Linked DNA regions of Homo sapiens. The protein of the gene in region 1 purifies or fractionates together with the protein of each later gene. This does not show direct contact. Each region holds a gene or a part of one and is shown in the gene's direction. Other genes may lie near its edges. The genes, in order: SLC30A6, PCDHGB5, IQGAP3, PPP6R1, ABI1, NCOA4 and MAN1B1.

Region 1 (4,012 bases):
CTTTAGCCCACATTTCTGGTGCATCAGGCTTTGAACCACGATCTTTGATCACCTCTGATAGGGATTTGTGACCATGACTCTGGAAAGCCTAGAGGAAATACAGGATGTCAGCTGTGCTTGGAAAGAACTTAACAGAAAGCTGAGTAGTAATGCAGTGTCTCAGATTACCAGAATGTGCCTCCTGAAAGGAAATGTGCGTGTTTGCTTTGATGTTCCTACAACTAAGTCAGAAAGGTTACAGGCAGAGTGGCATGATTCCGACTGGATATTCTCAGTGCCAGCCAAATTACCTGAAATTGAAGAATATTATGATAGAAACACATCTTCTAATTCCAGACAGAGGAGTGGTTGGTCAAGTGGCCAGTCGGGCCGATCAGGTGGTCGATCTGGCAGCCGGTCAGTTAGACAGAGTCCACAAGGGAGTCGCTCAGGAAGTTGACAAGATGGTAGAAGATGAAGAGGGAATAGAAATCGATCAAGAAGTGGGAGCCACAAACGGAGTTTTGACTATTTGATAGTTAATCTACCAGTATGAGGTTGCCTATTTCTGCCTAATCATGTATATTATGCACCAAAAATTAGGTCATCATAGTTGAGGTATGTGTCTGCTATTTGCAAATAAATTGGTCATATTTTTTTAAAAAGTATTTCACAAGAATGATTGTAAACAGATCTACTTACCAGTTATACCTTTGAATTAAAAAACCTCTTTTTATTGTCTCTTTTTAAAAAAAAATTACTAGTTGAAGTTTTTTGTCTGTCTCAAGCAAATAAACATATTTCAGCTCTTTCTAGTTGACAGATAGTTTGACAAAAAAATGCCTGACGGGGAAATGTCCACATTTTTTTTCATCATACCTCTTCCTACTAATTAACATAATTATTAGTTATTTTTCCACTAAACTTTGAAAGGAAAGAATTCTAAAAACTGGAGTATTTTTCTTTGAAATGTTTCTTTGCAAGTAGTGGCCAATTGTGATAAAATTGTGTCCTGTTGCTCAGTCCTGTTGCTTTAGATAATTAATGTTCAGGAGATTTAATTGTAATATGCCCAGTGAGATATAAATTTAAAATTTAGAATTGTTTTTTCCTTTTAGTAATTATTTTGCCGTAGACACTGCCTCTGCTATAGCTATTGCCTTGATGACATTTGGCACTATGTATCCCATGAGTGTGTACAGTGGGAAAGTCTTACTCCAGGTAAGGTGCTTCTTCCAATGCACGTGCTTAATATTAGCCATGTTCTTCTACCAGATTAAAAAGTTGTATGTGTTGTTCTACAAGATTGTGAAATTTTTATTTTTATTTTTTAATTTTAATTTTTTTTTTTTTTTTTTTAGAGACAGGTCCTTGCTCTGTCACCTAGACTGGAGTACAGTGGTGGGATCTCGGCTCACTGCCGCCTTGACCTCCCAGGCTCAAAGGACCCTCCCACCTCAGTCTCCTGAGTAACAAACTACAGGCACACACCACCACACCCAGCTAATTTTTAAAAATATTTGTAGAGATGGGCTCTCACTATGTTGCCCAGGCTGATCTCAAACTCCTGGGCTCAAATGATCCTCTTGCTGCGGCCTCCCAAAGTGTTGGGACTATACGCGAGAGCCATCGTGCCCAGTCATAATTTTTAATTACAAAAGTTTTTTGGCCAGGAGAGGTGGCTCACGCTTGTAATCCCAGCACTTTGGGAGGCCAAGGCGGGCAGATCACAATGTCAGTAGTTCGAGACCAGCCTGGCCAACATGGTGAAACCCTGTCTCTACTAAAAAAATACAAAAATTAGCTGGGCGTGGTGGCGTGCACCTGTAATCCCAGCTACTCGGGAGACTGAGGCAGGAGAATTGCCTGAACCCGGGAGGCGGAGGTTGCAGTGAGCTGACATTGTACCACTGCATCCAGCCTGGGTGACAGAGCAAGACTCCATCTCAAAAAAACAAAACAACATTTTTTTTAATGCCCTCCCTTTAACAGTACAGATTGTGAAATTTTTAGTTACTGGAAGCCCCTGCTAGAAATGAAGTCAAACAATAATCTCTGACATTCATATAGTCAGAACCTGATGAAAGTCCATTAGCAAGTAAAATAGTCACAAATCTTCCTATATTTATATTGTGACAAAATCACAAATTTAAAGCTATTATTATTTTTCAAGTGAAAAGAATGTTACTTCTTTTTTTTTTTTTTTTTTTTTTGAGACAGAGTCTCTCTCTCTTGACCAGGCTGGAGTGCAGTGGCGCTACACTCAGGTCACTGCAACCTTTGCTTCCTGGGTTCAAGCGATTCTCCTACCTCAGCATCCCGAGTAGCTGGGACTACAGCCATGTGCCACCACGCCTGGCTAATTTTTGTATTTTTAGTAGAGCTGGGGTTTCACTACATTGACCAGGATGGTCTCAAATTCCTGACCTCAGGTGAGCCACCCGCCTTGAACCTCCTAAAGTGCTGGGATTACAGGCGTGAGCCACTGCACCCGGCCTGAAATTTTTTTTAGATATTTATTTTCCCTCAGTAAATGTGCTTTGGCTTTTGTGTAATCTGCTTATGACTATTTTATTATTTCCTGCCACTGAATCAGTGAGACTTTAAAATTTCAAACTTAAAATCTTAAATGACACATTGCTACTTACTGAAATGATAGGAACACCCTGAATATGAATAGAAAGGCAGTTTCCGGCCGGGCGCGGTGGCTCATGCCTGTAATCCCAGCACTTTGGGAGGCCGAGGTGGTTAGATGACGAGGTCAGGAGATCAAGACCATCCTGGCTAACACGGTGAAACCCCATCTCTACTAAAAATGCAAAAAATTAGCCGGGCATGGTGGCGAGTGCCTGTAGTCCCAGCTACTCAGGAGGCTGAGGCAGGGGAGTGGCTTGAACCCGGGAGGCGGAGCTTGCAGTGAGCCAAGATTGCGCCACTGCATTCCAGCCTGGGCGACAGAGCGAGATTCCAAAAAAAAAAAAGGCAGTTTCCCAGGGCCGGATGTGCGTGTAAGCACTGTGGTTCCTTCTGTCTTACCCTATGCCTTTTCCAAGACTTAGGGCAGTAGTTCCATCTCCAGAAAAAATAAAAATAAGATAATAGTTGCATAGTGCTATGCCCTATACAAAATACGACCTTTGTAACCATTTCCCAAAGATTTTTTGTTGGTTGGTTGGTTGTTTAAGTGTTATTTATCTTTTTATCTTATCTTCAAGATAAAAAAACAGGTGTGGGCCAGTTGATGATGTTGTTCCACTAGTGGGGCCAGTTGAAACCTCTCTTCTCTAAATCATGATAGGACAGCTGTCAAAGCAAAGGCTGGCTTAAAATCCTTTTGGGGAGGGGGTTCAGGACCATTGTTGGCAAACTTTTTTCCTTCCCCCATTATTCATATTTTATTGTATTTTTCCCCAGACAACACCACCCCATGTTATTGGTCAGTTGGACAAACTCATCAGAGAGGTAAGATGGAATAGTAAATAAAATCATTTTATTTTATATCAGGGAATTGAAAAGGTGGATACTTTTAATACTTTATTCAACTCTACCTAGAATTTTATTTGAGGGAAGTTCATGTTCTTCACAATAACATACTAGGAGCCATAATATAGTGGCAAACGTGGAAAAATATGAGGAATTGTTCAATTTGGAAATCAAATTCACTTGAAGTGAATGTGGAAGGTAATGGCCTAATGACCACCCTATTATAAATGCTATGATTTTTATTTATTTTATTTAGTTATTTAGTTATTTTTTTTTTGAGACAGTCTTGCTCTGTTGCCAGGCTGTAGTGCAGTGGCGCAATCTCAGCTCACTGCAACCTCCACCTCCCAGGCTCAAGCAATTCTCCTTCCTCGGCCTCCTGAGTAGGTGAGACTACAGGCGCGTGCCACCATGCCCAGCTAACTTTTTCTTTTTTTTTTGAGACAGAGTCTTGCTCTGTCGCCCAGGCTGGAGTGCAATGGTGCCGTCTTGGCTCACTGCAACCTCCGTCTCCCAGGTTCAAGTGATTCTCCTGCCTCAGCCTCCTGAG
Region 2 (4,012 bases), on another chromosome or scaffold:
CGACCGGCACCTTTTCCTATCCCCTGAGGGCACTGTGGAACCAAAGGATGGTCTTAAGCTGGTCTCTGGGTGAAAGCGAGGCTTTCTATGCCCATGTACTGCCTAACCCCCTCCCCTGAGTTGAGCTGGGCTCCATTATGACCTGGGGCTCAGGCAGAAAAGCATTTGACCGGAGGAGGCGGTCCGCACTCAGCGCCTCCTCCAGAGCCTCCAGAGCCGAGGCTGACTGCAGCCTGGGGAGAGTGGAGGCAGCACAGCTGGAGGTGGAACTGAGGAAGGACTGGGCGGGGCATGGAGCAGGCCCCCTTCTCCGGCCCCTCCTCCCACTGTCCTCTGCCCCTACTTGTCCTGCTCTCTGTCTGTGGGGTCTCCGTGTCTCTGCCCCTTTTTCTTGAGTTTCCGTCTTTGCCACTTTCTCTTACCTCTCAGTCCTTCCCTCAGTCTCTATCTCGCTTTGCAATCTCTGCCTCTCCCTCTCTTCTCCATCTCTGTCTTAGCTTCCGTCTTGATTGCTGCACCTCAGCCTCAGTCCCTTTCATTTGTCTACTTGCATTGATCTGTGCCGCCCACTGTGCCTGCCATGGCATAAGTGCTCAATAAATGTGGAGTGAGTAACTACACGGGACCCTTAGTCTCTTTCTCCTTCTCTATCTCTGCCTCCCTGTCCTTGTCCTGGACCTCTTTTCTGTTTCTCCTTTCACCGTTTCCTAGCGCCTTGTGTTCTTCTATCCCCAGCCTCTATGTTTCTCTGTCTCTCACTATTTCTGCTTTCCTCTCTGTTCTTTGTCTCTCTTTGTCTCTGTCTCTGTATATCTTTCTTTGTCTCTGTCTCTGGTCTCTGTGCCTGTTGTCTTTTTCTGCCTCTTTCTCTGTTACTCTTTCTTTATCTCTCTTTTTCTTTTATCTTGTCTTTTTTCTCTGAGCCTCTGTCTCTGTCTCTCATTTTTTTGTGCTTGTGGGCAAGCCAGCACACACAACCCCCCACCCACCACCCACCAACACCCCGCTCTCTTCCTTCCCTGCCCCTCACACACTGAGCCTTTGATCGCAGCTCTCCACCAGACACCCTCCCATCCAAGCAGCCCCAGCTGCTCATTTCAATCTGGTATGAATTCCTGCTGAGACAGGAACCCCCTGCGGGCTGAAGGGGAGGGAAACTTCAGCAGAAAGACCTTCAGTTGGTCTGAGCAGAGTGGGATAGGCTCTGCGCCAGGCCTCCCAGTTAGAAGTCAGGAGCCTGGAGGAGTCTCAGAGCCCAGGGAGAGAAGCAGGAGCTTGGGCCACCTTACCCTACCTCCTCAATGGTTGAGTACTTGCTGTCCACATTTGCCAAGTTGCTACAGATGCTGAGCTTCCAAGAGTTATCTTTCCCCCATCCTGCAACCAACCAAACCCTTGTTGCCACAAGGACCCAGGAGCCCTTGGTGTATGGCAGAGATTCCAGCTTCTGGGCATGCACAGTCCTGTCACCCATTTTAGGAACGCAAAGCGCTTCTTAGAAGGCCCCTAAAAAGCAGCAGATCAAAAGGCTTGGGCTGCCCTTGCCCTTCCTTTGACCCCAGCTGTTGTCCTTCTCCCTGCTGGCCTTGCCAACCTTCTCATAAGTTATCCATTAAGTCATTAATGTATTCATTCGTTCATTTATTCAACAAATATTTATCGAGCATCTACTATGAGCAGGGCCCTGTGCTAAACATTGGGCTATAGGAGTGAACAAGTAGATGTGATCCCAGAACTCATAGGCTTCCAGACCAGCAGAGGAGACTGAAAATTTGCAACAAGTAACACTTAAAAAAAAAAAAAAAGGCTGGGCACTGTGGTTCACGCCTGTAATCCCAGCACTTTGGGAGGCCAAGGTGGGTAGATCACTTGAGGTCAGGGGTTTGAGACCAGCCTGGCAGCCAACATGGTGAAACCCCATCTCGATTAAAAATACAAAAATTAGCCAGGCGTGGTGGCAGGCACCTGTAATCCCAGCGACTTAGGAGGCTGAGGCAGAACTGCTTGAACCCGGAAGGCAGAGGTTGCAGTGAGCTGAGATCACGAAAAAAAAATAATCTAGCCACAAATCACAGTAAGTTCTGAGAGGCAGAGAACAATGTGAGTGTAATGGGGGGGGGAAGATCAGAGAAGGCTTCTAGGAGGAGGTGACATTGAGAAGTTCTAGGCCATTTATGTTCCCTCTACCTACCACCACCCCAGGCCATACACTGGCTTTGAAGCAGAATTCACCATTGAACCTGGAAGCCCCACCAACTGCCTCTCATGTGTCCTCTGGGGTGAGCACCTTACCCCTGCCTCAACTCCCATTCCATCAAATGAGAGGCTTAGTGGCCTGGAATACATGTGGGAGCTCTTGGAGATATGGAGGAGAAGGTGCGGAACCTCTCTCTCTCTCCTCTCTCTGCTTCCTTAGTTAACTTGTGGAGGATGCAACAAACCTTTTTTTTTTTTTTTTTTAGACAGAGTCTTGCTCTGTTGCCCAAGCTGGAGTGCAGTGGTGCGATCTTGGCTCACTGCAACCTCTGCCTGCCAGGTTCAAGCGATTCTCCTGCCTCAGCCTCCCGAGTAGCTGGGACAGCAGGTGTGCACCACCACACCCAGCTCATTTTTGTATTTTTAGTAGAGATGGGTTTCGCCACGTTGGCCAGGCTGGTTTCAAACTCCCCGACCTCAACTGATCCACCTGCTTCAGCTTCCCAAAGTGCTAGAATTACAGGTGTGATCGCCCCCGGCCACAACAAACATTTTTGATTCAGCGGCTCCAAAGTGAAATAAGCGTTAGGATCTAGTCCAGTAACTTCAACTTCTCTCCTTCATTCATTCAACAAATGGTCAGTGAGCACTTTCTGTTGGCCAGGCAGTGTTCTCGATGTGGGAGGCCCCTGCCCTCAAGGAGTTTACAGTGCACTGAAGGAGACAAATATTGACCAAATAATTACAAAAATAAATGTGAGACTGAAACTGTCATAAGTGCTAGGTAGAATTGTATCTGGTGGTGTGGGCGTATAATAGGGATTTGATTTAGGGAGCAGGAGGACATCCTGGAAATGAAGTTGTGCTGAGATCTGAAAGACAAATACAAATTAACCAGCTAAAGAAAAGAAGGAAGAGCATTCCAGATGGTCAGGCATACCAGCTTCAAAGCAGGGCTGGTGTTGAGTTCTTCAGTAAACTTGGTTCAAGATCAAGCCAGCTCTGGGTCACACTGCCTACACAGAAGGAAGAGCATTCCAAATGGGAAAAGCCTATGCAAAAGCCTTGTGGTGAGGCCTCCTGGGATCAAGGGAATGGCAGGGAGTTTTCTCTTTGCTGGCACTGGAGTGAGGGGATGAAGAGGAGAGGTTCCTTTTATCCAGTCTAACCCTGGTTCCAGCCTTCTGTTGATGCCCTGCCTCACTCCCTCCCCACCATCTTGCCCACTGCCCTCCAGCCTGGTCTGGTCAGACACACCAGCTTCAAAGCAGGGCTAGTATTGAGTTCTTCAGTAAACTTGGTTCAAGTTCAAGTCAGCACTGGGTCACACTGCCTAGACAGAAGGAAGAAGACCTGGCCAGGTGTGGTGGCTCACGCCTGTAATCCCAGCACTTTGGGAGGCTGAGGTGGGTGGATCACCTGAGGTCAGGAGTTTGAGACCAGCCTGGCCAACATGATGAAACCCCATCTCTAGTAAAAATACAAAATATTAGCCAGGTGTGGTGGTGCACACCTGTAGTCCCAGCTACTCAGGAGGCTGAGGCAGGGGAATCGCTTGAACCCAGGAGGCGGAGGTTGCAGTGAGCTGAGATCACACCACTGCACTCCAGTCTGGGTGACAGAGCGAGACTCCATCAGGAAAGAAAGAAAGAAAAAGAGAGAGAGGGAGGGAGGGAGGGAAGGAAGGAAGGAAGGAAGGAAGGAAGGAAGGAAGGAAGGAAGGAAGGAAGGAAGAAAAGAAAGAAAAAGGGAGAAAAAATGAAGAAGACTTACATTCTGAAGTTCCTGCTTGGCACATGCTTCTCCTCCCCACCAC
Region 3 (4,073 bases), on another chromosome or scaffold:
TTCAGCATAGTTGTTGGTGTCATAATTATTTTTTATTAGTTCAGGCTCTTTTTTTTTTTTTTTTTTTTTTTTTTGAGACGGCGTCTCACTCTGTCGCCCAGGCTGGAGTGCAGTGGCACAGTCTCAGCTCACTGCAACCTCTGCCTCCTGGGTTCAAGCGATTCTCCTGCCTCAGCCTCCGGAGTACCTGGGATTACAGGCATACCCCACCACGCCTGGCTAATATTTGTATTTTTACTAGAGATGGGGTTTCACCATGTTGGCCTGTCTGGTCTTGAACTCCTGACCTCAGTTAATCTGCCCGCCTCCGCCTCCCAAAGTGCTGGGATTACAGGTGTGAACCACCGTGCCTGGCCTAGTTCAGGCTCTTATTATCTCTCTTCTGTGCTACTGCAGTAGCCTTCCAACTGGTCTCTGCCCCTAGCCTCACCCCCTTCCAATCCCCTGCTATAAGATGGCTCTTTTTAAAGGACAAATCTGGCTCTGACCTATGTCTAAAGTGTTCCTTGGCTGGTGACTGCTCACCAGACCCCATGCCAGGGCCCTAGCATGGTGCCCAAGGTGCTACTGGACCTGGCCCTGTGCCTCCAGGATCCCTTCTGGCCTCTCCCTGGCTGAGCTTTGTTCTCCTCTAAAACTGAACCAAGTTTAAGTTCCCGAACTCACCTCCTCGTTCTTGCACATGCTGTCTCCACTGACTGCACTGCCTCTCTTCTTCAATCTGATGAATTCTCTTTCACTTCTCAACCCAAATCAGCTGTCACTTCCACCAGGACGTCTTCCCTGTCATTCGCTGCTCTTATTCACAGCAATGACCCCCTCCCTCTGTGCATCACCGACCTCTAATTTATTTGACTATATGTCTATCACTTGTGCCAGAACAGCAAACTCTTTTAGAGCATTCACTGCCCTCATACATCTCTGCATTCGCATCACCTAGCTTAGTGCATAGCGCCAAGTAGGCCCACAAGTTAGCCGGACTCGGGAACACATAGGAAGCAGAGTAGGGGTTAATGGGAATACTAGGTGGAGATGACAGAGGCAATGGCAGGGGCAGCAGCTAGAATAAGACTGTTAAGCAGAAAAGGAGCCTGGAAGGAACAAGACGAGGAACTGCTGTAAGGGGAGCGGTACTGCCCCGGCCTGGGGCGCCTCTTCTCCCAGCACCTGGGCGGCCCGGCTCCGCGGCCGGGAACTACAAATCCCAGGATTCTCAGCGGTGTGGACGGGAAGTGTCCTGTCTGGCGGTGCCGACGGTGAGGGGCGGTGGCCCAACGGCGGGAGATTCAAACCTGGAAGAAGGAGGAACATGGAGAGGAGAGCAGCGGGCCCAGGCTGGGCAGCCTGTGAGTGCGGAGAGGGTCAGAGAAGGGTCTCGCAGTGGTGCCGCTGGTCGGGGGCTTGGCTGTCCCGGGAGAGATTGGGGCGTGTGTCGGGCGTGAAGCCTGAGGGGCGAGGGCGGTGGGACTGCTCAGTGGGACGGGAATCCTCAGCCCGGGCGCCGTGGGCCCGAGTGGAACTGTGAGCGGCGCATTGTCCCCTGACTAATGTGCTGCGCTTTAAAGCTTACAAAGAACTTTCTTCCTATTTCCAAGTTCTGGGGTTCCGGAGTCGGGAGAATGTAGGTGATCCTAATGGCTCCTTGAAATTCAGCAGTTACTGCTGGCTACCAAACTTGCCCAGCGATGCCACCGGACAAGACGCCTCAAGGGATCTGGGGGACTCTTAGGCTTTGAGATGCCGCTTTCAGACAATGCCTGTCAAACAGGGGGTGAAATTACCCGGGAAGCTTGTTTGAGATGCAGATTCCTGGGACCTGTCCCAGAGCTTCAGTTCCAGAAGGTCTGGTTTGGGGCCCATAATCTGCATTTATAACAAGCACTGCTGTGCTTCTTCCCTCACCCCAGGTGATTGTGAGGAAGGTAGTCCCTGGGCCACATTTTCAAAGACACTGTTTTAGAGAGAGAGACTGGAGCTGGAAGGATGGGTGGGGCAGAAAGGTTCTATCTGATTTTCTGAATGAAAGGAAAACCTGCTCCTTCCACCACTCCCTTCCTTTCTATTAGGATTCAAAGAGCAAAGTCCATGTCCAGTCTTCTGTTAAAGGAAAACTAGTTCCAGACCTGAGAAGGACAGGAAAACTGTTTTTCGGTTTTTTATTTTTTTGAGACAGCATGTGTATGTACAAAATCCCTCCCATCGCCCACAGTCCTCAGTTCATAACTCTGAGATGATGTCATTCACTTACTGGTTTATTTTCCATGCTTAACAACCAACACTTGTTCCTTGTACACCCCCTTGGAGGAACTGATGGCTTTCCTGTGGTTGGCCAGTGTTTTCAAATCTGTATTTGGAGGGGTGTGTGTGTGTGTGCACGCATGTGTTTTAATTTACTTAACTGCTCATTCATATAAGCTCTGCCCTTCCCTGAATCATTGCAGAATATGCAATATAAGGAAATAGGATAACAACCGGGAATGACATTAAGTGCTGAGTCAAAGACAGATTGGCTAAGCTCTGCCTTTTTTCAAGCTCTCTGAGTTTATTTTCTTACTGTGTGTGTAGCTTTCTCTTACTCTTTCTGTTTGATTTTGTATTGTGTTTCTAAGGAGAATAGAGAGAGGGGAGAGAAGGGAGAAGGATTAAGGGAGACTGTAACTAAGGCAAATTATGATTGCTGTCTCACTTGAGGGATTCTCTATTCTTGAGTTTTGGAATCAGTACTCTGTATTTTATTTAGCTTGAAGATTCTTTTCCTCCTCGGGTGACCTATACCAAAAAGGATAGTGAAGATACCTTTGTGATCTTTTAAAATTTTCTTTGTCCTTCCACTTAATCCCAAGTGAGTGGCATGTTTCCCTCTGTTGGACTGCCTTTCCCTGTGTTCCGCCTATTTATTCCTTAAGATCTAGTTCATAGCTAGAATCCTTTGCTTCCTCTGCTGCTCCCATAGATTTTATGCATGGGCTATAATCATACTTATCATGTTAGATTAATTTATTCAGATGTTTTTCTCTTCTGATAATAATCTTTGGGCGCTGTGGTTCACGCCTGTAATCCCAGCACTTTGGGAGGCCAAGGCGGGAGGATCACTTGAGCCCAGGAGTCCAAGACCAGCCTGGGCAACATGGTGAGAACCAGTCTCAACAAAAAACGCAAGAATTAGCCAGACATGGTGGTGCGCACCTGTGGTCCCAGCTATTTGGTGGTGGGGGGGCTGAGGTGGGAAGATCACCTGAGCCCAGGAGGTCAAGGCTGCACTACTGCACTCCAGCCTGGGTGACAGAGTGACACCCTGTTTCAAAAACAAAACAAACCCACCAATATCTCTGTTGTCCAGGATGGAGTGCAGTGGCACGATCATGGCTAACCGCAGCCTAGACCTCCTGGGCTCAGGTCTAGGCCCAGTAGCTGGGAGTACAGGTTTGCACCATCACACCAGGCTAATTTGTGTATTTTTTGTCAAGACAGGGTCTCACCATGTTGCCCAGGCTGGTCTCAAACTTCTGGGCTCAAGCGATCCACCTACCTCAGCATCCAGAAGTACTGGGATTATAGGCATGAGCCACCATGCAGGCCTTTATCTCTGCATTTCTTAAGAGTAGGGGTCTGCTAGTCCAGTGCCTGGCATAAAGGAGGTATTGATGAATGAATGAATGAGTGAATGATGAATTCTGGTTGGTTCTATTACCTCACCTCTGAGAGAGTAACCAACGAGGATGACACAGGTCCAGTTCTTGGAGAACTCAGTCTAATTAGGGATAAGAAAAGGAGTTAAGTTTCAAGCCAAGGAAGGCTCTGGATGTCCCAGCTGGGAGGTACTGAGGGAAGTTCCATGAGTAGACTTGAGGAGGAAGAGGACAGGAAGATGGCTACAGAGGAAAGAGAAGTAATGCCTCCAGCACAGGAGGAGGCTGCCTATTAAAGGGTATCCTGGGAAGAGAAGGAGGGACACATGGGAGATGTTTCAGGTCTCTGAGCAGGGTTGCCTAAACAAGTCTGTTGAGAAGATGTTTCGGCTGGGCATGGTGGCGGCTCAAGCCTGTAATGCCAGCACTTTGGGAGGCCAAGGC
Region 4 (4,012 bases), on another chromosome or scaffold:
TACAGCCAGGCGCAGTGGCTCACGCCTGTAAGCCCAGCACTTTGGGAGGCCGAGGCAGGCAGATCACTTGAGGTCAGGCATTCAAGACCAGCCTGGCCAACGTGGTGAAACCCCGTCTGTACTAAAAAAATGCAAAAATTAGGCCGGGCGTGGTGATTCATGCCTGTAATCCCAGTGCTTTGGGAGGCCCAGGCAGGCGGATCACAAGGTCAGTAGTTCGAGACCAGCCTGGCCAATATGGTGAAACCCCGTCTTTACTAAAAAAACACACACAAAAATTAGCTGGGTGTGGTGGCGCACTCCTGTAATCCCAGGTACTCAGGCTGAGGTGGGAGAATTGCTTAAAACCGGGAGGCGGAGATTGCAGTGAGCCGAGATCGCGCCGCTGCACTCCAGCCTGGGTGACAGAGCGAAACTCTGTCTCAAAAAAAAAAAAAAAAAAAATCAGCCAAGAATGGTGGTGCGCACCTGTAGTCCCCACTACTCGGGAGGCTGAGGCAGGAGATATGCTTGAACCCAGGAGCTGGAGGTTGCGGTGAGCCGAGATCGCGCCACTGCACTCCAGGCTGGGTGACAGAGAGAGACTCTGTCTCAAGAAAAAAAATAATAAATAAAGGGTACAATTCAGTGGTTCTTAGTGTATTCACAACGTTGTGGAAACATCACCACAATTGATTTTGGAACTTTTTTTTAATCACCCTTTCCTTTCAGGAACTTCGCCCAATCCCCGCCAGCTCCTGGAAGCCTGTAAGCTCTTTTCTGTCTCTATGGATTTGCCTGTTCTGGATGCTTCACATAGTTGGAGGCCTGCAGTGTGTGGTTCCTTGGGACTGGCTTTGCTGGCATGGCATGGGCAGCCTATCAGCCTGCTTGGTCTCCCACGGAGAAAGAGGCTGTGTGTGTGTGCTTGCCACGTCTCGGTGCTTTGCTCGCCACAGCCTTAGGCCGGAAATTGGCAGAGTCATGATAAATTTGGCGGTTGCCCCTTGAGATTATTCTGGTCCCAGGTACACCCAGATCAGGAAATCCATTCCCCCTCCCGCTTCCCTCAGCACGCTGGTGAGTCACCTTTGCTGAGCCTGAGTTTTCTCATCTGTGACATGGACACTTGGTGGTCGGCCTGTCGCATTCCTTGTCAAGCGGGCTGGGAAGTAGGGGATGGTCCCTTGAGGAGGTCTAGCATCTGGGCAGAAGTGGGGAGGTGGGGAGTTACCACTGTGCACACAGAGGTTCCCGGAGCAAGGAAGGGAAACAGTTGTATTTCCTTGTGAGGTGGTGGTGCCTTCGTCACTCTTGACACAGGGGAAAATACACACCCATTGCCTGCCCAGGGCGATCTTGCACTTTCCCCCACCTCCTGATTTAGGGACCCCGTAGGAGTGGCTGGGAGGGGCCGGAGTGGGAGTGATTTCACTTCGTCTAACGCCCTGACAGGTACGGCAGCCTCCTGCCTGGGAGGAGCTGGGGCCTTGTGAAAATGAGGTTTGCTTTTCAGCTAATACTTGTGAGCGTTTATTGCCAGGGCCAGGTTCCATGCTAGGTGCTGCCCTCAGGTGCCCATGGTAACCTAGGGGGAAGGTTCTAGAGGAAGCATTGTAGGGCCACGAGTGTGTACCTCCAGTGCTTCATTGCTGTGTCACAGAGATGCTTCCAGGCGGCAGGTCAGAACGCACAGCTCAGGGAGACAGGGAGACAGTGGTGGACAAAGGCGGGGCTGGGGGCTGCTTGAGCCAGGCAGGCCAGGGAAGGCCCTTCTGTGAGGTGAATGCTTAGTAAGAGATCTGAGGATGAGAAAGTGAGTTATTAGGACAAAGTCGCTGGGGTAGACCCAAGCTTAGTGTGTTCTGAAAACAGAAGGCCAGCTTGGCCAGGGCAAGTAGGGAGTGGGAGGTCATTGAGGGTCCCAGGCGCTGACCCGATGAGAGGGCGGTTCTGATTTTCCCTTCAGCAAGCTCTGCATGGCTGTGGGGAGAGGGAACGAGCAGGGGTCGCCTGCGGTCGAGTGTGGGGGGCCTGCCGTCAAGTGGTGGTCATGCAGGCAGAAGGGGTGGGATGGTTATGTTTGGGGAGGTCAGCGGTGCCTGGGTCGGGGTGGGAGGCCTGATAAGTCCCTAGATTTCTGGTGGTGCTGGGTTGGAGGAGAACTCAGGCCTCTGGCCGAACTGTGCTGTCACAGCTGGGCTGGGAGGGTCCTGAGGACCACAGCCCTCCATCCTGAATCCAGGGATGTCTGTTGAGTAAGCACTAGCAGCTGGGGACAAGGTGGACAGGGAGTTTACCATCCAGACAGGTCCCTTCAGGGTGGGCCTGGAAATGGCAGGCTCCTCCCTGAGGTGAGAGTCGGGGTCACTGTGGCCAGGGCTAGTCCCTCAGGCAGAGCAAGTGCTGGAGCCGGCTCAGCGGGAACTCGCTCATTCATCCCTTAAGTGTCCACTACACAGGCCCTGTGCTGGGACAAGGGCTCTGCACCCTGAAAATACAACTTCTGAAAGCTGAGAGTGCCAGCTTCACTGCCCGCCAACCCCTGGATCGGGGCATAGGCATTTACTTTGGTGTGCCTCAGTTTCCTCTCCTGTAAAATAAGGCCATTCCCTGGAGGGTGGTTGTGAGAGTTGGTGGAGGTGATGGCTGTGAAGTCCTTTTCAGAGTAGTCAGCGCAGTGCAGGTGCTGGAGCGCAGTGGCTGATACCATCGACATCATTGCCTGGAATGCCCCCATCCACCCAGACCCGCAGGGCCTCCTGGATATCCATCCAGCACTGTGCCTCAGGCAGCCACGGGCTGTGCAGGAGACACCTGAAGTGGCAGCCCCAGGAGCACTGGCGAGGTGGCATGGGGCACGGCCTCCCCAGGGCACTGGGGTCACCGTGGGCATGGAGGTCAGTCAGTGAGCTGGCTGGGCAGGGGCACGAGAGCCTGGATGCAGGCTTGGTGGAGTGCACATCACCGAGCAGGTGCGGGTACTCATGTTTGTGCTTTAAAAGGATTTTTTTTTTTTTCCGAGACAGAGTGTTGCTCTGCCACCCAGGCTGGAGTGCAGTGGCGCAATCTCGACTCACTGCAACCTCCGCTCCCGGGTTCAGGCAGTTCTCCTGCCTCAGCCTCCCGAGTAGCTGGGACTATAGGCACACACCACCATGCCCGGCTAATTTTTGTATTTTTAGTAGACACGGGGTTTCATCATGTTGGCCAGACTGGTGTCAAACTCCTGACCCCGGGTGATCTGCCTGCCTGGGCCTCCCAAAGTGCTGGGATTATAGGCGTGAGCCACCACACCCAACCTTAGAAGGAATATTGGGAGTCTGGGCATGGTGGCTCATGCCTGTAATCCCAACACTTTGAGAGGCCCAGGTGGGCGGATCACCTGAGGTTAGGAGTTCAAGGCCAGCCTGGCTAACGTGGTGAAATCCCATCTCTACCAAAATAGAAAAATTAGCCGGGTGTGGTGGCAGATGCTTGTAGTACCAGCTACTAGGGAGGTTGAGGCGGAAGAATCGCCTGAACCCGGGAGGTGAAGGTTGAGGTGAACCTAGATTGTGCCACTGCATTCCAGCCTGGGCAACAGAGTGAGACTCCTCAAAAACAAAGGATTATTGGGAAAAGTGGACTGGTGAGGGGTAAGTGGTGAGTCACTGGGTGCTGTGGACTGGGACCTGGCAGGCCCCCCAGAGGAGCAGGGGTTCAAATGCCTGGAGGCTGCTGCTATCTCCCCTAGTCCTCCTGCTGCCGCCATGACTGTCGTTGGTCACGGAACTCTTCCCTCTGCTCCACCCTCAACTGTCATTGGCCAGGTGTAGGGACCCATATAGTGTTATATCAAGATTGTTGCCAATCTAGAGTTACCGAGGCAGACGGGCAGACTGGGAGCAAGGTCTGGACTGCAACCTTCTGTGCTGAGCCCAGCCTTAGGGTGGTCAGGGTGGATGAGCAAGGAGATCCTGGCCCCAGGCTGGCCTGGCTTCAAGCTAGCCAGGAAGGAGAGGAAAGGAGGCCCAAGAGGCGTTCGACCTGC
Region 5 (3,944 bases), on another chromosome or scaffold:
CTCTGTCACAACTACTCAGTCCTGCTATTGTAGCGTAAAAGCAGACATAGACAATACATGAGTAAGTAGATGTGGCCATATTGCAATAAACCTTTATTTACAAAAATTGCGTGGTTTGGATTTGTCCATGGGCCATTTTATACATTTTGGATTACTTTCTCTTTCCATAGCAGTTTGCAAAGGAAGTGAATATAGGCTAAGCATCCCTATCTGAAAGTCCCAAATTCAAAATGCTCCAAAATCCAAAATGAGTTCCAACATGATGCCGCAAGTGGAAAATTCCACACCTGACCTCACGTGATGGGTCACAATCAAAATGCAGGCACATGACACAGTTTATTCAGTGTTCCCAAGGGAAAAATAAAATTACCTTCAGACTATGTGTATAAGGTGTATGTGAAACAAAAATGAGTTTTGTGTTTAGACTTGGGTCCCATCTCCAAGATGTCTCATTACGCATATGTAAAATTCCAAAATCTGAAAATCCCAAATCCAAAGCAGTTCTGATCCCAGGCATTTCAGATAAGGGTTACTCAACCTGTATCTTGAACTGAAAAAATTACAGACACCACAGAATTGCAAAGTTCTCTAAGTATTAATTAAAATCCTTTAAAGTAAGTAAATATTCTTTAAAAAAAAATCTGGGGACAGTCCCTTAAATTAGCATGGGTCCTTGAATGAGTAGGATGTGATTTACCTTCCAGTAACTGTGTTTTTTCAAATTAGATAGCTTGGATTGTTACCTGGTTTACTGAATGGCTATGCAGCTTTCTTTGCCTGATAATTATTTTGAAAAGCCGGTGCTTTGCATATGATAGGCACTTGGTATTTGAATGAATTGAAACATCTAATAAATTCTAAAATTCAGAGAGCTTTCTTAAAGTGATTGACAGAACCTATTGATGTATTCAGTCTAATCAGATTGTCATTTGGCTCTAAGATTAAGCCAATGATTTAAGTACATGGTTGGCCACTGACCTACTTATATTGATAGATACAAAAATTAAGAAATCTTCATAAAAATAGTTTTGCTGTGCTATATATTTAATTGTCTTTGTCTTAAAATTCAAGTAAATTTTGGATATAGTGCACTCATGTGATATTTCAACTGTTTTTTCCATAGTTGTTGCAATATATGATTATACAAAAGACAAGGATGATGAGCTGTCATTTATGGAGGGTGCAATCATTTATGTTATAAAGAAGAATGATGATGGCTGGTATGAAGGAGTCTGCAATCGAGTGACTGGTCTGTTCCCTGGGAACTATGTTGAATCAATCATGCACTATACTGATTAATTTTTTTTTTTCTTTTGAAGTAGATTCTTATTACTCAGTCATACTGTGGGACTATTATGGTTAACAGAACTGTCTTAATATGTTTTAAAATGTGCCCATATTTTCAGAACATGCTGTTTTATTGGTAAATTGAATGTCTACCTGTAAGCATAAATCTTTGAGGCAGTTTATGTATTGCTGAATAGCAATTTATACAAGAAGCTGTCCATAACTGATTATGCTTATGTACTTACTTACACATTTTTAACTTTATGACCAGCCTAAATATTCTGGGGGAAGTGGGGTATAATATTTAACGAATCATGATTCAGATTGTACCATTACATGTTTCAGTGCAGCATGGTTACTAACGCTATGTCAGACTAATATTAAAATCAGAAAATTTAAATGCTGGTGCTGGTCAGACTTTTTTTGTTAGATTCTCTCATTTAAAAAAAATACTGTTTGTTTAAAGCATGCATAAAAATTTATGTATTGAAATATACTTAAAAATTCAAGATGCTTCCCATTTGTGTAATATTTACCTGGAGGACTCGTACTTAGGTGTCTTAACGTGAATTGAGTCTCCAAGGTCTCCATGTGAAACAAGCAAAAAGAGAATTATCTGTAATGTTGTAATTTGTACCTAAGTTTTTTAATGAGTGAAATTTGCATTATAAACTTTTTCCATTCATAAATACATAAGTGAACCAAAGGTTTTTGTCCTTTCCTTCACTGATTTGCTTTAAAAAAAATAAAAGATAATGATTTATTGCAGAATTATGATTCTATTTTCTCAATATGTTAACTTGGAAAAAAATTTTAGCCTTATCTTAATCTGTCCCAACAGCAATGTGACGGATTTTTGCAGATTCAAAATCTGCAATGGTTATTTACAAGTCAATCTACTGAATTCCTTTTTTAAATAATCTTTTGAAACTAAGAAAATGTGTCAAATTGTGTGCATTCATTCTGTAGGTAAAATTCTTAAGGATTGCCATGTCAGTCCTTCAGTTGTACAGTGAACTGTTGTACACTGGTTCAATGAAAGGAAGTTAAAAGTACCTTTTACATATTGTAAAAGTGGATACAGTTGATTTGTGAGTAGGCACTCTTTAATCCATTACCTGGCACTAGCAACATTAGAATTTTAAAATAAAATAATTGGGAAAGAAGGTGGGTCATGTATTAATCAGTGAACAGAGATTTACCTAACCAACAGACTTGGATTGTCTTTTGACATAATCAAAATGCAACACATGCACTTTGTGTGTCTCCTCTTAATTGAAGGGAGGGCTGAGGGATGTTTTCTCTTCTTGTCTTGTGTATAATTCTCTATTGCTTAGGATATTAAAGTAGAGCACTCAAGTGTGGGTTTCTGTGTTATTGAGGATTTGTTTGGAATTCAAATTACAGTTATGTACTGGATGCTACAGACTTATAACAGCATAGTGAATGGTAAGACTAGTGCAAAACAGTTATTTCTGAAAATTAAAGACCATTATTGCTACCAAATCAATGTGACTATTTCATATGCATTTTGCCTTTGTTAATTTTAAACAAACAAAGTATCATTAGTGATCAGCTAGCTACCTTCTACTTTCCATTTTTCAAGTGGATTGTTCTCTTAATTTGTATATAACCTGTTGTCTAAATTTTATGTACAGTCTTTTATAATAAACCATTCTCCTATATGAAATTTTGGATACTGTTAAAATATAACTCATGTGGACTTCAATGCAGACTTCACATTTTTCTGACCTTTACTCCTACGGTAAATCAAGACAAACCATTTGAATTTTAACATTGGTTATTTATTTGTGTAATGGCCTTACATGTGGATATTAACAGTGTAAACAATACCACATATAACCATCAAGATACCTTGATTATAATTTATAGGACTAGAATGACAGATTCAGGTGGTTTATTAATTACATTTAAAAAGTTTTCTGAAAAAACTTTTGCAATAAAAAAAAATAAATTGCCCATCAATAAGTTTGATATCTTTTAAAATGATTTTTGGTTATCTGCACATGAAGCAAACAAAGTGTATTCCACAAAATTCTTTAGGCACAGTCTGGTAAGATAGCTGCCAGAAAGAACAGAAAGAGTTGTCATTTATCTCTTGTGAGTACAATTTCTGAAAGCTGAATGAGGGCATCTCTTTCTGGGGATGGTCGAAGTTTACTGATCTCTCTTATTGCTTCATGGCAGTACTGCTGGGCGAGGTAGGTTGTTTGTTGCACACCATCACTCTATAAGATACAGAACAAAACAGAACAGATGCCTGTCACTGACTGAATCAGCGTTTTAACTTCCTGCTATAATAAATGAACACATAGTTTTGAGATCAGATGAGCTGAGGATTACAGTTAACAGTCAAACTACATCTCTAATGTTCTTTTCCCGACTCATAGTGCTAACTTCCTTTAGGCCTTTTTCTCATATTGAAGCAAATTTTTATTCTATTAGCATGCAAAGCAACTAGCTCATCAATATTACATAGTCATTCGTTTTCCCCTAATTTTTACTTATTAGAATTTCTCAGAAGTTCTATGTACAAAGTATCTTTATACAACATTTTTAAATGTAAAAAAAACACAAGTAAAACTTACTTAAAAAATAAAGAATAAAGACATAACAAAATGAAAGTACAGAGGGTT
Region 6 (4,012 bases), on another chromosome or scaffold:
AACTGTGAAACTCAGTGAACATATACATAGGGGAGTAGCTGAAGACTTTACTGTGCTGGGGCGTTGGTCAGGATCTTTTAGAGAGAGAACAGAGACCGTTGGTTAAGTAGGTGACGGCCAACAAAGTTTCTTTGTATTTACATTGTGATCAGCCATTTTTCAGAGGCACATAAAATAGATGAAAGTTCCTGACATGAGTTATATTTTAATAGAATTCCTTCTTTGTTGCCATTGATGTAAATTAGTACAAAGGACCATAAAATTGTAACTTTAGTCATTCAGAAGTATGTCTGTTTTTTTTGTGTCTTTACGAAATGTATTATCCAAGGAGGGCTTTTGGAATTAGGGAGAAATTTTCTTATTTTTGATAATGAATGCCTGGATTGGGGTCCCAGAAATTGTATGCATCACAGACAAAGCAGGCACTTCCACTCTGTTCATCTGAAATCTAAGGGATACTTAATTTAGGGTAATGGCTCCTTAGTGTTCCCCTTTGGTGTTTCTCATGTGATTTTGCTTTACTCTTAATATTAACAAAAACAGCTTTATATGCATAGACAACAGCAAGTATTTTACATTCAAAAAATCGACTGAAAGGTAATAGAATTACAACATTGTCTAGATTTCATCTTTTGGCCTGATTGCATATGCAGGCTATGAGGATTATCTTGGAGAAAAGGGAAAGCTAGAAGTACCATAAGCATGATAGTCACAGGTAGGTAGGGCTATATTGCCAGGCACTGTCCTAAACATTTTAATTCATGTAATTCATTATAGTTCATATATAATTCTCATTGAGTTGGGCCCATTATCGGGTGGAGCAAGTGGGGAGAGGAGAGGCTGGAGAGGAGCCCCAGGTGCCATCCGAGGTCCTTCTAGCTGGCCTTACCCTGGGGGCCGGGCGGGGGCAGCAGGCGTCTAGCAGGGAGGCCCAGCGGGGAGGGAGCTGCAGGGGGGCCGCGAGCGCCAGCGGGGACTGGCTGGGAGCAGGGCAACAATGGGCGGAGTTTTCCGCTCCTCCCCGCCCTTGGCTTGAGCGCTCCAGCTCGCTAGTGGCCCGGGCGAACTGGAGTTGCCGTGTGACGCGTGGGCGGGACGAGGCCCGGGCTCGGGGACCTTTCGCACTCGGGTCAGGGGTAAAGCAGCCTGTCGCTTGCCGGGCAGCTGGTGAGTCGGTGACCTGGCCTGTGAGGTACGTCTGGCAGCCCAGGGGCCGTAGCGGGAGCCCTTGAGGCCGGTAGCCTTGCAGGGCTGGCGCCGGGCAGGAGCCGGGTCGCAGCGGCTGACTGCACAACTGCGTGCGAATCGGCGACCGGGGCGAGGGCAAGGGCTCCTGAGGCCGCTTGGAAAGGGCTTTTGGGAAGTCTAGAAAGCCGCATGAGTCACTGTTGCTTTCGTATTAGAAATGCCTTGTTTTCGAATTAGAAATGCCTTGCGGTCGGTTTTCAGTTACTACTTTAGAAAATTGATGTGCTGGGATTTATTGCCCTCAGTTGCTTGTATAAAGGTGGACAAATCTGAGCCTAGTAAACTCTGAAGTGTTAAATCTTAAAATGTTCAATAGTGAATTTATTATTATCTTATTTTAAATCTGTTGCGATATTAACGTTTGTTTGTGTGGTTTTAAAAAGATTACAGAGAACCAGATTCTGGATTTCAGAAACTGCTTGTCTTGATAAGGAATTTAAAATGGGCTGGGGCTAAGGTAAGATGTATATAATCCTTGAGTTAATGAGTTGTATAAAAAACAACCTTTAGGCCGGGCGCGGTGGCTCACGCTTGTAATCCCAGCACTTTGGGAGGCCGAGGCGGGCGGATCACGAGGTCAGGAGATCGAGACCATCCTGGCTAACACGGTGAAACCCCGTCTCTACTAAAAATACAAAAAAATTAGCCGGGCGTGGCGGCGGGCGCCTGTAGTCAGTCCCAGCTACCTGGGAGGCTGAGACAGGAGAATGGTATGAAGCCGGGAGGTGGAGCTTGCAGTGAGATCGCGCCACTGCACTCCAGCCTGGGCGGCAGAGCTAGACTCCGTCTCAAAACAAAAAAAAAACCCAAAACCAACCTTTAAAAAAAAGACGGAAGAAAGAACGTGTGAAGTGAAAAAAGTCTCAAGGTAAAATTGCAAAATATTTTTTAACATAATTTTTTTAAACTAAAAGCTTTACAGACGGTCTAATGCAGGTTGTCTCATCAAAGATAACCAAATTGTTCAGTTAGTATTTCGAGTGTAGTACTCATAGAACACATAGGTATCCTGTGGATAGATGCTGCGCTTGGCCTTTTAGCAATGACTAGGATGCCAGGCAAATAAGTAAAAAGTAGAGGTCTTTGGAGGGGCAGGGGCAGGTGGCAAGGGGGGCAGAGAATGTGAGAGTTGGAAGGTGAGGTTACAGATGATCTAGTCTGAGCTTTCATTCTTACAGACGAATGAAGCCTGGAGTGGCTGTGATACAGACGTTGAATCAAAACTATTTGCATTGGTATTTGGCAGTGTTTTGGTTTTTCTGAGCCTATCATGACATACAAGGGTACTGTTTATTTATTTATTTATTTATTTTGAGATGGAATTTCGCTCCTGTTGCCCAGGCTGGAGTGCAATGGCTGCGACCTTGGCCCACTGCAACCTCCGCCTCCCAGGTTCAAGCGATTCTCCTGCCTCAGCCTCCCGATTAGCTGGAATTACAGGCATGCGCCACCACGCCCGGCTAATTTTGTATTTTTATTAGAGACAGGGTTTCTCCATGTTGGTCAGGCTGGTCTCGAACTCCTGACCTCAGGTGATCCGCCCACCTTGGCCTCCCAAAGTGCTGGGATTACAGGCGTGAGTCACCGCGCCCGGCCAGTACTATTTTTGTTAGTGTTATCCAAGGCAGAAGATTCTGAACAATTGTGGTTATAATTTACTGAGGACTATGAAAATTGACTGAAAATCTTAACGGAAGTTATTTCAATAGTAATCCATTGGAATGTTAATTTTAATCACTAGTGTTGGCAAGTAAAAATACTTTACAGGTGATAATACACTAAAGGAAGAACAAGCTCATCTGGGAGAGAGAACCCAGGACTAGACCTTGGAAACTGTAGTTCTAAACCCAAATCTTACCCCTTCTGGCTGTGGCCCTTCAGATGGGTCACTTAAACTATCTGGGCTTTTGTGGCTTCATATGTAGAATGAGAGTGTTATATTAAAGAGATGACCAAGATTTTTTCCAGCTTTATTTTTTATTTTTTTAAAGAGGCTTGTGAGGAGCTATTTTTCAGCTTTAAATTGTAGTTTGTGTGGGTCACAAGAGTTAAAGCTCTTTGGAAATTTTATGGTTAAGCCATACAGTAATGACTTAGCTTCATTACATAACCACTTCATTTGTGGTTAGTTGCTCAATTCTGGTGCCATGATCTTCAGACTTCACAAATAGATTTGTGCAAAGCATTGTGTAAGCATGGCATATATAGTTTAAAGAATTCCTTGTTGCGGAAACTCCAGGTTTTGTTATTCGTTTGAAGGGTATGTGTGTTTCCTCCTCCTTTACTTCCTCCACCCCCAAATTTAGGACAGGGATACTAGAGGCAGGGAAGTTTTAGAAAGCACTTAAACTTTTAATGTTGTCTCAAAACATAAACATTTAAGGCAGTCCTCTTTTGAAGATGGCAAGGCAATATTTTGGATTATAATGGTGAAGATAAAAAGACATTTTTAGTAATCTTTTATTGATTTGAATATTAGGATCAGAGCTGATTTGGTCCAATCTTTCTACACGTAAGAAAACAGTCAAAAATATCCATACTTGGTATATATTAGAGGATTTAGACTATTGAGTTTTTGGAGTAAATAAAAGATTGCCTTTTGCTGTGCTGTATAGTGAAAGACTAGATGGAAATCTAATATTTATTAAATAAGCACGACCTCCTTACCCCTAAGTCTGTGAGTCTATATTCCTCACATATGAATTAGGAAGTTAGGTTCCACAAGGGCAAATGGTGCAAGGTCATAGCCCTGATAAATGGCTAA
Region 7 (3,362 bases), on another chromosome or scaffold:
TGTCAGGAAACCGCAGCCGTGCCAGGCCTGGCCCAGGCATTTATGTGGAGGGCGTATTCATTCACCTCTCACCGTGGCCTCTGGGGGGGTGAGGGGGGCATCTTCACTGAGGGCCATGGGCTGTGCAGGGTGGCACCTTCTGTCCGGCAAGGGCCAGGCCTGCTGTACTTGTGTGGGCCCAGGATGTGCCTGTCCCTGGTGCCCCACGGGAGCCGATGCACCGTCCTGGTAGAGTGAGATGACTGCTGGTGTCCACAGGCTGCTGGAAGACTACGTGGAAGCCATCGAGGGTGTCAGAACGCACCTGCTGCGGCACTCCGAGCCCAGTAAGCTCACCTTTGTGGGGGAGCTTGCCCACGGCCGCTTCAGTGCCAAGATGGTGAGTGTGTCTGCGGGGCCTTCCGGCCGCCGCCCCTTTTACCTTGGCTTCCAAGGTGCCTGAGTCATGATGTCAAAAAGAACGAAATCCTGGCCATGGCGCCCACGTGGAGGCCCTGGGTGGACCGTGGCTGCCTGGCCAGGCCTGTCTTGGCAACAGGGCAGTAAGGCCTTGTGTGGCACCTGGGGTGGGCAGGGCTTCCCCAGGGCAGCTCCCTCCCCGTGCCCGGTGTGTAGCAGGTCCTCGGGCGGTGTGTGGGGGCCGGGTTGGAGGGCCTGGTCCAGGCAGCTCCGCTGTTCCATGCCAAGTGCCCTCGCGTGGCCTCCCCTCCCAGGGTACCAGGGCCGAGGCAGCGCTGGGCTCCCACGTTGGCTGCCCGTGCAGCTGCAGGCTGAGGGCAGGGCCTGGGATCTGGGGCTGAAGAGACCCTCTGATTCCAGGACCACCTGGTGTGCTTCCTGCCAGGGACGCTGGCTCTGGGCGTCTACCACGGCCTGCCCGCCAGCCACATGGAGCTGGCCCAGGAGCTCATGGAGACTTGTTACCAGATGAACCGGCAGATGGAGACGGGGCTGAGTCCCGAGATCGTGCACTTCAACCTTTACCCCCAGCCGGGCCGTCGGGACGTGGAGGTCAAGGTGGGCCTGGGCCTGGGTCAGGGTCCATCAGGAGGAGGGTGCTGGCAGGGCTGGCCTTGCCCTGAGCTCTGCTCCGCCCACAGCCAGCAGACAGGCACAACCTGCTGCGGCCAGAGACCGTGGAGAGCCTGTTCTACCTGTACCGCGTCACAGGGGACCGCAAATACCAGGACTGGGGCTGGGAGATTCTGCAGAGCTTCAGCCGATTCACACGGGTGAGCACCTGTCCTCGCCCCGCGTGGTCACGGCCACCGGGCCACAGGCACGGCTGGGCTGTGGGGCTCAGGCTGGCTCCGCTCTTGGTGGTGGCTGTGACCTGGATCCGGGAGGGGCGGGCTTGCCGCAGCCTCGGGGTGGCCACACTGCAGCTTGGGGGCCCTGGCATCCCCATCCCCACTGAGCTTCATGGTTGTGGGACCCAGAGTACTTGGAGGGGCTGGGCACCCCTCATTTTCATTTCTCAGGGCCTGTCTAGGGAGGGTCTCTGCTGTGGGCCCAGCATCCCCCCAGTTTAGGAGGCACACGCACCCATGACTGGGGCACCATCCCCACTGTGGACCAGGCCCTGTTTTAGGTCACGCCCTCCACGCCAGAGTGTCACTTCCTGGCTCTGCTGTGATCTTGGCCTGAGGCCCCCGCTGCCTCCGCTCCCACCGTCTGCCCTGTGCCCTGTGCCCTGTGCGGCAACTGTGAGGCCCCCTGAGCCCAGGTTCTGGGGGAGGCGGTTTCTGTCGTGGTCACTTGAGGGTTGTTGGCATTTCCAGGTGGGCTCCGGTGGAACCACACGGCTCGCCTGGGGGTGGCCATCATCCAGGCGCCCTCCACCCTGAGCTTGCGCTGGGGGCCACATTCACCATGGGGTGGAGAGCGCTTCGGTGATGAGGCTGAGGGGGGTGCAGGGTGCCCCCCGTGTGGTGACGAGGCCCTGGCTGCTGCACAGGTCCCCTCGGGTGGCTATTCTTCCATCAACAATGTCCAGGATCCTCAGAAGCCCGAGCCTAGGGACAAGATGGAGAGCTTCTTCCTGGGGGAGACGCTCAAGTATCTGTTCTTGCTCTTCTCCGATGACCCAAACCTGCTCAGCCTGGATGCCTACGTGTTCAACACCGAAGCCCACCCTCTGCCTATCTGGACCCCTGCCTAGGGTGGATGGCTGCTGGTGTGGGGACTTCGGGTGGGCAGAGGCACCTTGCTGGGTCTGTGGCATTTTCCAAGGGCCCACGTAGCACCGGCAACCGCCAAGTGGCCCAGGCTCTGAACTGGCTCTGGGCTCCTCCTCGTCTCTGCTTTAATCAGGACACCGTGAGGACAAGTGAGGCCGTCAGTCTTGGTGTGATGCGGGGTGGGCTGGGCCGCTGGAGCCTCCGCCTGCTTCCTCCAGAAGACACGAATCATGACTCACGATTGCTGAAGCCTGAGCAGGTCTCTGTGGGCCGACCAGAGGGGGGCTTCGAGGTGGTCCCTGGTACTGGGGTGACCGAGTGGACAGCCCAGGGTGCAGCTCTGCCCGGGCTCGTGAAGCCTCAGATGTCCCCAATCCAAGGGTCTGGAGGGGCTGCCGTGACTCCAGAGGCCTGAGGCTCCAGGGCTGGCTCTGGTGTTTACAAGCTGGACTCAGGGATCCTCCTGGCCGCCCCGCAGGGGGCTTGGAGGGCTGGACGGCAAGTCCGTCTAGCTCACGGGCCCCTCCAGTGGAATGGGTCTTTTCGGTGGAGATAAAAGTTGATTTGCTCTAACCGCGATGTCGCCTGTGTCTTTAGGGATCTCCATGACTGGAAAGTCTGGGCGGACGTTGGGGAGAAGGTATTCTTCAAGTCACGTCTCAGAATTCGGTTTGCTGAGACTGGACTCTAGCTGTCCCCTGCTGGTGGGCAGGGAGAGGCCACGGGGAAGCTCCGTGTCCCTGGCCCCACGGGGCAGATGCTTGGCGGGAGGCATCCTTGCGCCTGCGTTTCACACAGGGCCTGTTTCCCTGCAGGGCTGGCACTGAGGCGCACAGCTGAGGGATACACGGGCCCTCAGGTCAGGCAGCTCCCAGCAGCCTGGCATGGCTATGGCCCCGAGCCCTGGGCTGTGGTGGCAGAGTTGTCCTCATCATCACTCTACTGCTGTCCCTATCCCAGGGCTGACCCTGGGCCTTGGCTGGGTTCCCCCCGACCCTGAACCAGGTGACCTCTTAGGACCACGCCCCCTCGCTCTCCCCTGTGAAAAATCCATCACCTTCACTTCCGGAAGACTCCCCTTCCCTGGGAAGCCAGAGCCGGTGGCGGCACAGGGCAGGGCTACCCGGACCCAGCCCAGGATTGCCAGCTCCGCCCCTCGGGACGTCCGGGCCCCGAGTGTGG

Evidence for each region.
Region 2: the proteins of SLC30A6 (region 1) and PCDHGB5 purify together in Homo sapiens (affinity purification with mass spectrometry; one large-scale study listed by BioGRID and IntAct). This does not show direct contact.
Region 3: the proteins of SLC30A6 (region 1) and IQGAP3 purify together in Homo sapiens (affinity purification with mass spectrometry; one large-scale study listed by BioGRID and IntAct). This does not show direct contact.
Region 4: the proteins of SLC30A6 (region 1) and PPP6R1 purify together in Homo sapiens (affinity purification with mass spectrometry; one large-scale study listed by BioGRID and IntAct). This does not show direct contact.
Region 5: the proteins of SLC30A6 (region 1) and ABI1 purify together in Homo sapiens (affinity purification with mass spectrometry; one large-scale study listed by BioGRID and IntAct). This does not show direct contact.
Region 6: the proteins of SLC30A6 (region 1) and NCOA4 purify together in Homo sapiens (affinity purification with mass spectrometry; one large-scale study listed by BioGRID and IntAct). This does not show direct contact.
Region 7: the proteins of SLC30A6 (region 1) and MAN1B1 purify together in Homo sapiens (affinity purification with mass spectrometry; one large-scale study listed by BioGRID and IntAct). This does not show direct contact.

The regions. Positions count from the first base shown.
Region 1 is NC_000002.12:32,203,493-32,207,504, forward strand, and holds part of SLC30A6 (zinc transporter 6), read left to right. Parts: exon of another isoform or gene 1-726; intron 727-1,097; coding exon 1,098-1,200; intron 1,201-3,393; coding exon 3,394-3,441; intron 3,442-4,012. UniProt on the Homo sapiens protein: Has probably no intrinsic transporter activity but together with SLC30A5 forms a functional zinc ion:proton antiporter heterodimer, mediating zinc entry into the lumen of organelles along the secretory pathway.
Region 2 is NC_000005.10:141,495,099-141,499,110, forward strand, and holds part of PCDHGB5 (protocadherin gamma-B5 isoform 1 precursor), read left to right. Parts: intron 1-4,012. UniProt on the Homo sapiens protein: Potential calcium-dependent cell-adhesion protein. May be involved in the establishment and maintenance of specific neuronal connections in the brain.
Region 3 is NC_000001.11:156,569,766-156,573,838, reverse strand, and holds the start of IQGAP3 (ras GTPase-activating-like protein IQGAP3), read left to right. Parts: upstream 1-1,273; 5' UTR 1,274-1,309; coding exon 1,310-1,346; coding exon of another isoform or gene 1,347-1,361; intron 1,362-4,073.
Region 4 is NC_000019.10:55,248,829-55,252,840, reverse strand, and holds part of PPP6R1 (serine/threonine-protein phosphatase 6 regulatory subunit 1), read left to right. Parts: intron 1-711; coding exon of another isoform or gene 712-747; intron 748-4,012. UniProt on the Homo sapiens protein: Regulatory subunit of protein phosphatase 6 (PP6). May function as a scaffolding PP6 subunit. Involved in the PP6-mediated dephosphorylation of NFKBIE opposing its degradation in response to TNF-alpha.
Region 5 is NC_000010.11:26,745,925-26,749,868, reverse strand, and holds the end of ABI1 (abl interactor 1), read left to right. Parts: intron 1-1,123; coding exon 1,124-1,299; 3' UTR 1,300-3,273; downstream 3,274-3,944. Other genes in the region: all trans-polyprenyl-diphosphate synthase PDSS1, read right to left, coding at 3,396-3,536. UniProt on the Homo sapiens protein: May act in negative regulation of cell growth and transformation by interacting with nonreceptor tyrosine kinases ABL1 and/or ABL2. May play a role in regulation of EGF-induced Erk pathway activation. Involved in cytoskeletal reorganization and EGFR signaling.
Region 6 is NC_000010.11:46,020,510-46,024,521, reverse strand, and holds part of NCOA4 (nuclear receptor coactivator 4), read left to right. Parts: intron 1-1,143; exon of another isoform or gene 1,144-1,192; intron 1,193-4,012. UniProt on the Homo sapiens protein: Cargo receptor for the autophagic turnover of the iron-binding ferritin complex, playing a central role in iron homeostasis. Acts as an adapter for delivery of ferritin to lysosomes and autophagic degradation of ferritin, a process named ferritinophagy.
Region 7 is NC_000009.12:137,106,431-137,109,792, forward strand, and holds the end of MAN1B1 (endoplasmic reticulum mannosyl-oligosaccharide 1,2-alpha-mannosidase), read left to right. Parts: intron 1-258; coding exon 259-379; intron 380-819; coding exon 820-1,017; intron 1,018-1,100; coding exon 1,101-1,232; coding exon of another isoform or gene 1,233-1,532; exon of another isoform or gene 1,533-1,948; intron 1,949-1,957; coding exon 1,958-2,161; 3' UTR 2,162-2,753; downstream 2,754-3,362. UniProt on the Homo sapiens protein: Involved in glycoprotein quality control targeting of misfolded glycoproteins for degradation.